Regions from separate parts of the Homo sapiens genome. Here region 2 is linked to region 1. The links come from fine-mapping of genetic effects on gene expression. A gene starts in region 1. The other region holds a variant in brackets. All regions are shown on one strand. Distances are between the middles of the regions. Region 1 holds the start of VEPH1 (ventricular zone expressed PH domain containing 1). Region 2 has its middle 24 kb from the start of VEPH1.

Evidence for each region.
Region 2: its variant is fine-mapped to the expression of VEPH1 in whole blood (TOPMed, PIP above 0.99).

Annotation. Positions count from the first base shown.
Region 1 is chr3:157,500,695-157,506,081 of GRCh38, forward strand. VEPH1 (ventricular zone expressed PH domain containing 1) reads right to left here and starts at 2,722. Exons shown (of 14, transcript NM_001167912.2): 1 at 2,583-2,722. RefSeq lists a silencer at 2,515-2,749.
Region 2 is chr3:157,524,915-157,530,301 of GRCh38, forward strand. No RefSeq gene overlaps it. Among named protein-coding and RNA genes, the nearest start is that of VEPH1, 24 kb to the left of the region's middle. The variant C/T (reference allele first, on the strand shown) is at 2,401.

The DNA.
Region 1 (5,387 bases):
ATTATTACTGATTTTTAATCCCTAGATTTTTATCCAGTTTTATTTTTTTAAAGGGTGTAGAGTCCTGAATTGGACACTCTATGGAACTCCAGTAAGAAGAGCAGAGTGATAAGAGTATGGGAATCTAGACTCAACTGGATTCCAAGCTCAGCTATGCCATTACCTGCAGTGTAAATGTGGGCAGGTTAATTAGACTCCCTGAGCCTGGAATTCCTCCTTTGCTCCTGAGGATTGTGATATGGGTTGTTGGGAGGTTTAAGGAGATGATATAAAACATTTAACACAGAGCCTGGCATATGGCAACCACAGAAAAAGTGCCAGCAATCATATCCTTAAGAGTACTATTATTCCTATAGATGGTCCACCAGTTAACACATCCCCATGCCATACCTTTTAAAAATTAATACATGACTGTACTGTTCACTAAATTGGGTTCACAGAGCTAAAGATGTTTAGGTTGTTTCCATTTGAGCCATATTTATATCTTTGTTGTCCTTTCTCTATCTTAGTCATCCTGTCCTTACCTCTGGGTTGTTCACTTTTCATCTGTAAACTTCATTCTCTTGAATGGGTCCCTGTTGATTTTTTGGCAACCTTATCTTGTTTCCTGGAGAGATAGTTTTACGGTGATCCTACCCACACCAAGGTTGAACAATAACAGTGAATGTTTTTACAGAGCAGAAATGGGCTAGAATACAATGTATCTCAAACTTTTTGTGGCTGGGTAATCCAAACACCTGAGTTTTCCATGGAAGTGTAGCACTCCTTCCCGTGTTTATTAGTGAGAAAGGAGTGGCCCTCCAGGGCTCCAGCTACTTTCTTTACTACTTTTCAAGGTGACGTACACTCAATGCCCACTAATAAAACATTAGTGGCTTACTCTATTATGCATCTGTAGATTCTGCTAAATGAAAATATACATGAACTGGAGGACTTAATCGCCACACTATTGGGATACTGCCTATAGAATAATTGAAACTCTTGGGGGAGATTTCAATCACCATAATTAACTCAAGAAACCAACTTATTCTGAAGAATTCAGCCTCTAGCTTGCAACTTAGGTTAGGGTATACCCTGGCTTCCTCACTTCAGAAAATTCTAGAATGACAATATTTATTTACATTACGCTTTAGACTACATTACTCTGCATCAAAACATTTTCATTTTATTCACCTGTATTAAAAATGCTCATTAACAAACTTAGACCCATTTGGGCTCTAGAAACTTTCAATAAAGTTCTCAGATTTTTCCCTTGAAAGAAAGGATTACAGATTCTTTTGAAGGAGCATCTTTTTCACACAGCGTGAAAGGACTACAGGCGTTCCCATGGGAATTGGCTGCATACATTTCAGCCCTTCCCACAAGATGTCTATTGTTCCCTGGATGTCTCTGGGCTTCCTTGGCTGTGGCGTGCTGCTACACTTCACTTCTACTGAAAGCCTCTGAGTCTGGCTTATTCTAAGCAATGCTAAAGGCTTCAGCCCTGTCTTTTTGCTAGAGTACATACGATCTAAGTTTGTAGCAGGCTTATTTCATAAGTACATGAAAAAAATAGATTTGGTGACCTATTTAGTCAAGAGCCCAAAAAACTACTTAATTTTGATTACCTATTTCAACTTATTAAAACACAAATAGGAAACATTTCCTTCAAAAAGGATGAGAAACACTTATCTTCAAGTCTAATAAACTTTCTAAAATCAAGGCTTTTGTGACTTGTCATAATTTTATAGTGTATTCATTTTCACCTGTAAATGTTGACTTTGTTGGTCATTTTTGCTCTGGAATAATACAAATCTTGCTGAAAAATCCTAATTCAAATTCGTGGGTTTGTTCTTCCAGAAAATGTACCAAAACTCTCAAACTACATGGAAAACTCAATGTTAAATGTATCTTCATTTACATTTAAGTTTCATGTACCAAATATCTATATGACCAACTCAAATATTTCTCTAAATATTTTTTTCTGCTTTTTAAATCAAAAATATATAAATGTCATTTAATCCAATGGTTGATTACTACAACAATTTAAGTGTGTATCTGAAAGAGTAAAAAAGTGGTTAGATTTAATTATGATTTGTAAGATATCTGAAACACCAAAGGAAAAAACGGCAGCAGCAACAAACAGTAATGGTGACCCTGTTCAACCCACTGACTGTAATGATGCTATAATATTTAATTTTCTTTGAAAATCCGTAGGCAGAGCCAGTTTCTTTGCTGGTTGCAAAATGTTGATTGAAGTAAACAAAAGTATAAAATAGAAATGAGACTAGATTATTACGGAGTAAAACAAAAATGCACATGATATGAATCTAGAAGCACAGCTTTCTGCTCCTGAGGCCTAGAGACATGTTTTAATAACCCACAGAGAAGTGGCATTTTTACTCTAATAACCGAAATGCCTGCATACATGGCTAGACACACAGCTCCCAAATGTGCTTTATCTGCATAATCAGCCAGCCCCTGGAAGTTTCTCAGCTCCATTCTCCTATCCCCCACTCTTTGCTTCTTTGCAGCCTCTGACATTTACTTTAATTAGCTTTTGTTTTTGCTGAACAAAAGGTCATGAAAGAAGATAGCCATACCTCTTTGCACAGGAATCTCTGGTCATAGAAAATAGAAGGCAAAATCCTTGATCTTTAGAGCACTGCAGCTGGGACCCATGACCATGCTCAGAGGCAGCCTTGCAGCTGCTGCCCAGTCCTGTGGGCTGCAGCCGCGTCTCCCTGAGCTGCCTGTCAAGCCAGTGGTACATTTCATTCCCTCCCCATTGACTCACCGTGCGGAATCAGGCAAATGAGTAACTTTTCTTCTCTCTCCCAAACTTCTGCTTAGACCTAACAATTGACGCAAAGCTTCACTTATTTCTACACTAGATTTACAGATTTCTCTGAGCAGATCTGTAGTTTGAAAGAATTAGATTTGCCTAACAACCAGTAATTTAGGTTCTGTTAATGAATAACTCACTTTAAGAAATCAAGGAAGTTTTAGGTTAATATCAGATGTGGGGCCTTTTAGCAGGCATCAGGAAAAAGGCTTGGGGAGGGAATGCAGGAAGGGAAGCACTGGAATGAAATGGTATTTAAGCCAAATATGATAGAAGAAAAATACCACAAGAGAAGCAAAATAGCTAGGGTAAAGGAGCAAAAGTCTAATTATACTATTGGTATTGCTTACGAAACACACAACAACTTAATGAAACTTCCCTGGTAGCACTAGAGATTTTTCTGAACCCTCATGGTTCCTTCTTGCATCCACTCAAATTTCTAACTCCTTCCTTTTACCATCCAAATATAGAACTCATCTTTTCAAACCTAATTCATTGGGGATCCCTCACAAGCACTCCCACATCGCCTCATCTCTCTCTCTCTTTTAAGGAGAATGCACTTTAAAACCTCTAATGCATAAATTAATTGGTGGTGCCCAGTGGATTATTATATCTAGAGGCTCTTCTCTCCCTTTAAGTGTATGGCATGGGCTTTCTTCCCTTATTGATCTGAGGTTTTGCCTTCACATAAAGTGATAAAACATTTCTGAGTCTCTCCCGACCGGAACTTTCAGTCAAACCATGTGAGGGTAACAGGGAGGGTGGGGGCGGGGGCTGCAGTGGGGAAAGTCAGGTGTAAGATGTACAAGTGGAAATAAAAATATTTCCATTCAGTGGCAATCATGCTGCATGTAAAAAAATTACTAGTCCAATTAAAAGGACTACTCATGGGGTGAAGATTACTTTCTCTTGTGTTTGACACTCAACATTCACTTACTCTACTTTTAGTCAAAACTGCACCCAAATTTCCCTTGGGAAACCATGTCCTTTGGGTACAGCTGATGCCCATAAACAGGATGGGCCTTAATTGGTCTTACCCAAATTAGAGTAATTGCATTCCTGTGATCATAGTGACTAATGCAGGGCAGGTGTGCGACCCCTTCTAGGCCAATGAGAGGACAATGATGAAAGCTCAGCTTTGGGAGTAAAAAGTCTAAGCTGCTGGACTTGATGATAAGAAGGTGTAAGGTCTGGCTGCTATTGCCCTCTTGCCACCAAGAAAACTGTTGACTTCATTTGGGCCCCTTAAACCACCTGCCCCTAATGCTAGCAAGACCTACCCTTCAGTGTACACTAATAAATTCCTTAATAGCTTAAGTGATTTTAGATTGGGTTTTCTGCCATTTACCATTAAAAAATTTCCACCTGACAGAATCAGCCTAACCTAGTTTTGTGGGAAGTCTCTCCTGGGTGCAGCTCATTGAAAATTAAGTGGACTAAGAGACTCAACAGGAACTATCTATGACAAATGGGCTCCTTCAGTGACAACCACAGGCTTCCTCTGACAACTAGCAGATGCAAGAAAGGCCTGGAAAGGAATGTAGTCATTCAGTGTACCTGAAAACAGGACCTTCTAAATTATTTTTTCCTAACCAGCTACATAGTCATTTCCTCAATACTTGAGTCCCCCAAAATAATTAAATTTAATCTCTTAGACTTGCCTGGCAGTACCTAGCCACATACCATTTGACCTCAATACCCTTGTCATGGAATCCATCCATTCATACACAATTTTCAAAAATTTCCTAAAATCACTTACGCTATTAAGGAATTTATCAGTGGACACTGAAGGGTGGAGCTTGCTAGCTTTAGGGGCAGCTGGTTGAAGAGGCCCAAATGAAGTCATCAGGTTTCTTGGTGGCAGAATGGCAACAGCAACCAGATATTACACCTGTTTGTCAAAAATGTATTTGAGTAATCAGTTTTACAGAGTATTGCTTTGTCTTTATTTTTCCCCTCTGTTCTTGTCTAACTCTCACTCCTTCCCCTCCTTTGGGAAACTTGAAATAAAACATTGTCTGTAACCACAAAATCAGACAAAGACGTTTTCTTTACAGAAAAGAGGTAAATTCTAAGGCAACTTACATAGGTGAGTTACATATAAACACTGAGAACTTCTGAATGATTTCATTTTCTATAAACAGTTTTTCTTACCTGTAATCATGAAAGCTCCTGTAAGCACACCATTTCTATGGTCAGCCTTCCAGCTTTGAAGAGTCCATTGCAGGCACAAAAACTCAGACACAGCCAGGAACTCCCTTTTGGCTCAGCAAAATAGCATGTGGCATGAACTATGACAGTCAAGTTTCTTTCTTTCTTTCTTTCTTTCTTTCTTTCTTTTTTTTTTTGAGAAGAAGTCTCGCCCTATTGCCCAGGCTGAAGTGCAGTGGTGCGATCTTGGCTCACTGCAACCTCTGCCTCCTGGGTTCAAGCAATTCTCCCACCTCAGCCTCCCTAGTAGCTGGAATTACAGGCGCACACCACCACACCCGGCTAATTTTTTTTTTTTTTTTTTTTTAGTTTGTTTGTATTTTAGTAGAGACAGGGTTTCGCCATGTTGGCC
Region 2 (5,387 bases), 24 kb after region 1:
GAAGAGTCTGATTCTAGAATCTATAATATGTTTTGTTCTTTTAGAATATAGTCTATCCCTGCACCAATACCACATTGTTTCAATTACCATATTTGGTAGAGCACATTGCCTTATTTTTCCTTTCTCAAAATTATTCCAGTGATTCTTGGCCCTTAGCATTTCCATGTAAACTTCAGAATCAGATTGCAACTTCCATGTAAAACTCTATCTAAATTTAAATTAAATAGTACGGGTCAGGTGTGGCAGCTCACACCTGTAATACCATCACTTTGGGAGGCTGAGGTGGGCAGATGGCTTGAGCCCAGGACTTCAAGACCAGCCTGGGAATTATTGTGAAACCTCATCTCTACAAAAAAAATAGAAAAATTAGCCAGGTATGGGAGCATGCACCTGTAGTGGCAGCTACTCAGGAGGCTAAGGTGGGAGGATTGACTGACCCTGGGTTGAGACAGGGCTGCAGTGAGCTGTGATCATGTCACTGCCCTCCAGCCTGGGTGACAGAGTGAGACAGAAAAGGAAAGGGAAGGAAAGGGAAGGGAAAGGAAGGGAAGAAAGAAAGAAGGAGAGAAAGAGTATGAAATGTACAGATAATTTGGGAAGAATTAACATTTTTACATTAAATTTTCACATTCATAAGGTTGCCATAATTCCAAAATTATTTAGGTCTTCTTTGATGTTTTTCAATAAATTATTTTATTTCATATTTGGCTTTGTACATTTTTTTGCTAGGTACCTTATTTTTGTTACTATTGTCAATGGTGGGAATGCAAATTGATAAGACTGTTCTGGAAAACTATATGACAGTACTTTATGACACGGAAGAAGCACGTGCCTGTCCCTGGCAATGCCAGTCCCAGGTGTCTACCAAGGGAAGCTCTTGCCCGTGAACACCAGGAGATCCGTAAAAACAGCCTTATTCACATTCAAAAACAAAAAACAATCCACATGTCCATAAGCAGTATAGTGGATAAATTATTGTGATAGATTCACTGAAATAGCACGTAGGAATAAAATTAACTAAATCTATGCATATTAACTTGTATAAACATTAAAATCATAATGTTGAGTGAAAAGAGCAAATCACAGAAGAATCCATATAGAATGATCCTTTTCATATAAAATGCAAGGACAGAAAATATTATATTTAAGTATATTAGGCAATATGTTAGCAGCACAGGCATATGTGGTAAGATTATTAAAAAGACAAATAAAATTAGCATTAAACTCAATACAGGAGTTACGTGGAAATGCAAGGGAACAGAGTTGTTATTGGAGGGGCACATTGTCAGCTCTGAAATAGTCATTTTCTATTTCTTAAGTAGGCTAGAGGGAACATATGCGTTTGTTTTATTCTTTTAAAATATACAAATGTGTGTGTGTATATGTATGACACACATATATAGTATGTGTACTTTTGACATATGATATCATCTATAATAAACTCTTCATACAAATTTAATTAAAACTTTTAATAACTGAACTTTTTTGGTAATCCAAAGTACTTTTTATGGTTTCATGATGGCTCATTAATATGTCAGCCTCAAGAGTGGCTTATGGCTGAAGAGTTTTCTTTAGCCCCCTGGACAATTGAAAATGGGATAAATGACAAACTTTGAGATCCTTTTTTTATTTCCAATCCTCCTTTCTTGCTTAAAATTATCCACTCCAAGCTATTACTTTTCATAAGTCCTGTTTCATTGACTGAATGGCATGAAACTCTCTTATTTAAAGAAAGTAATCTAGTCCAAATTTTCCTAAACTTTAAGCCATTTGAAAATCCCTTTATAATTTTTGAGATATCCATTATCACATGTGCTGTTACATATATAGTATTTTTCTTTATTTTTCATTTCATATTTTATTTCAAAATGCAGTATTTTTCATTAAGTTTGTCTTAATTTGGCTCACTTTTGCTATACTTACCTCACCTTAAGAAATATTAGTGAAATCATGAGTTTGATGTGCTATTTCTATTTTACCTGACATTCATGAAAATAGAATCAGAACTATCAACATATTTTAAAGTTTTCCACATATCACATCTGACCAAAGGTCATTCTATGTCCATGTGCCACACTTTAGGAAAGTCTAATTAAAAGTAGGAACACACACACACAAACACACACACACACACACACACACACACACACGACTGTCTGCTTCTCTTCCCATCTCCTCTGCTCCAACAGTACATGTTCACTGGAAGGGCAACCAGCAGCCAGCTCTGGTTTCAGCATTTGCCAGGCTGCCAATCTTCCCCTTTGTCTGTAGAATGTTTCCCATTTGGATTTGCTTTCTGCCTTTTATTTGGGCTTGCCATCTTTCTGTTGCCCAGCTCACTATAAAAGGGGGTAAATTTATGCCCTGGGAAACCAACATTCCCGCAGCTGCAATGCCAGC[C/T]GGTCGACCAAGATAAAGTATCAGAGCAGAATTAACAGACTGGTGCTCAAGTCCCTGTTTACACATGGGCCAAGTCACTAGGGGCATGTGTGGCTATGTTAAGAGTAGGTTGTCAACCTCCCCATCAGCATCCTGCCAATAGCAGGGTGACAGCAGGCCCTACAGTCTTCTGTGACAATCCAATTCACACATCTCGAGTGATCATCAACCACTTGGGCTTAACTGACTCAAATTCTCCACCCACTTTCTAGCTTGGACATTCTTGGTTTATTAAGTCCTGCTTAATAGCATGAGGCATCTCTGACACAGTTTGATTAAATAAGTTTTTTCTCTTCCTTTTAGTTGCTCTTTAAGCTTGGATGGTTTAGATATTTCCAGAAGGCTGCCACTGCCTCTTAGTTCTACACATGTGTATATGATGCCATTGGCAGGGCCTTCCAGGCGCATAGCTGAGTCTGTTAAGACTTAGTGAAGCCTGAAACAGAATCAATGTTTCATTTACATCAGAAGGCTCTACATCACATCACATCCTGCTGGACACAAGCTGGACAATATCTTAATACTAATCAGCTTTTTCTGACATTGAATTCTAAGGCTTGGTATTTTGAAAACAAAAAGTATTAGCTTTGGCCCTCCCAGCTGCTCTCTGACGATTGTCTGCCCCCTTGCCAGACTGTACAATTTGACACTCTTGTTCAGCGACTTCTCACTCATTAAACTGATCAAGATACAAAACTCGTTAGTTAATTTTTCATGCACTTGGGGGATCTGGTTGCATATTTTAATGATCTGCTCTCAGAATGTGCTGATCAAACTGCATATTTTGTTGATTTGCTGTGACATATCCTTAACCACAGTGTTGCTCACACAGGGTCCTGGGTGATGTGAGCTGCATCCAGGAAATGCTGAGTAGATGCCATGTGTGCTAATTGAGCTGTGCAGCTCCACTGAGGCTCTGATGTACTCTTTACTGATTGATTTGAATAATAACCATTTGGAAATTTCATATTCCGTATCCTGGGGCTCAGATGATATCAAAACTAATATTTATTAGAGTAGCATTCATTCTAGTTAGACCCTAAGGCATTTTTCTCATTTGCTTAAGGTTTGGTCATGAAAACTGGAGACTCCACACACATGCACACACAAACACACACACACACACACACACACACACACACACACACACACACACACACGCCCCATGCATAAATGAGATAAACAAAGAAGCCAGGGTGGAAGTCTAGACAAGGTCAAACAGAAAGATAATAGCAATAACTTAGCTAGACTCTCTGGGTCCTGTTTTTGTTGAGAGCTTAGGAATTGGCTGTATGTATTTGAAAAACAAATCATCTGACCTTGCTGTCTCAGCCAGAGAGGGTGCTCAGGACCCCTGCCAACGAGGAGGCAGAGAGCTGGGCCACCAGGGCCTTCTTCAGAAGGTCAGGGGAATTGGGCTGTTATCCAGAACCTACATGACTGATCACATGACTCCTAGCAAATAAATCACGATCTCCAGATCTCATTTGCCAAATTTGTTTTTTAAAAAGATGAGTGAGGCCATGGGCACTTTCAACTTCTAAATTCTATAAGGTATAAATAGTCAGGTCATGGTTAAAAAAAAAAACTCTACCAAGGAAAATTATTTTACATTATAGACAGATGGATTTTGCTTTAATATACTACCACAACACAATAATAATAAAATAGAAAATCAAAATTAAAAGGGGGGTTTGAGAGTAGTGGGATTGTCTTCTCAGGATAGAAACAAAAAGATGACATAAATAAACATGATTTTTCAGCATGCTTCAAATGCAGACTTTTGGGGCAGATACTCTGTATGAACCTATAAGGGACCAGATAGTAAATATTTTAGTCTATGTGAATCATATAGTCTCTGTCATACCTATTCAACTTTTCCATTATAGTGGGAAAGCAGCCACAGAAGACGCCATAAACGAATGAGCATGGCTATCTATCAATAAAACTTTATTTATAAAATCAGGCAACTGGCTGAATTTGGCCCAAGAGCAGTGATTTGTTTACCCTTGGTCTAAAACATTATCCTATTATTTTTCAGTTTACTCTTCTATAAAAATATAAACCTGATAAGATCTACTATTTGTGAATGTTAGAAGAATTAAATGAATTATTACAATATTTAGTACTCAAGTACTTAGAACCATGACTCACACATAGAAAGCACTATGGAAATGTTAGTTAATTTTTGTTACTATTAGTTATTATTTGGATTGTATAACCAAATTAATTCATTGTCCTGATAATTAAGTCTCTGCCATGTGTCATTTCTGGGTTCTGTGTTGACCTAACCAATCAAAGCCTTTTTGTCATGGAGTGCACAGAATGGGGTGGGAGTCAGAGATGAAAAAAGAGATATCTAGCTAGCTAGCTAGCTAGCTAGCTATTGAGAGAATATATATCTCTCTCATAAATGATATGGTTATATCTATAGAAGGAAAGAGAAAGGATGGCTCAGGAGCACATGCGCATAGTAGAGACAGCCAACCCATGAATGGAAGAGATCAGATGAGGCTTCCAGAAGGAAGTGATAGCTAAACTGAACATGCAAAAGCAGCAGGACTTTGCCTGTCAAAGGGGACAATGAGGGATGAGGGCATAGCTGGAAGGTACAGGAAGAGTGTTTAATCAGAGGAAACAGACTGAGAAGAGTTGAGTGAATGGGAAGTGATGAGGAGGGAGGCTAAAGAGATGGACAAAGCCTCATGAGCCATATTATAGATTCGGGGTGGATCCTAAACTGGAAGCTTGCATGGTTTAAGCAGAGGAATGACATGATCAGATTTTTATTTTAGATAGAATGCTCTGACCACACATGGAGAATGGATTGGAAGGGGCAAGACAAAACCAGTGCTTAAAAAAAAAAAAAAAGGCAACAAGAAAACACTCAGAGGGGCAGAATCATACGGATAGGAGGTGGAGAGAGTATCAAGAAAATGGGAGGATGG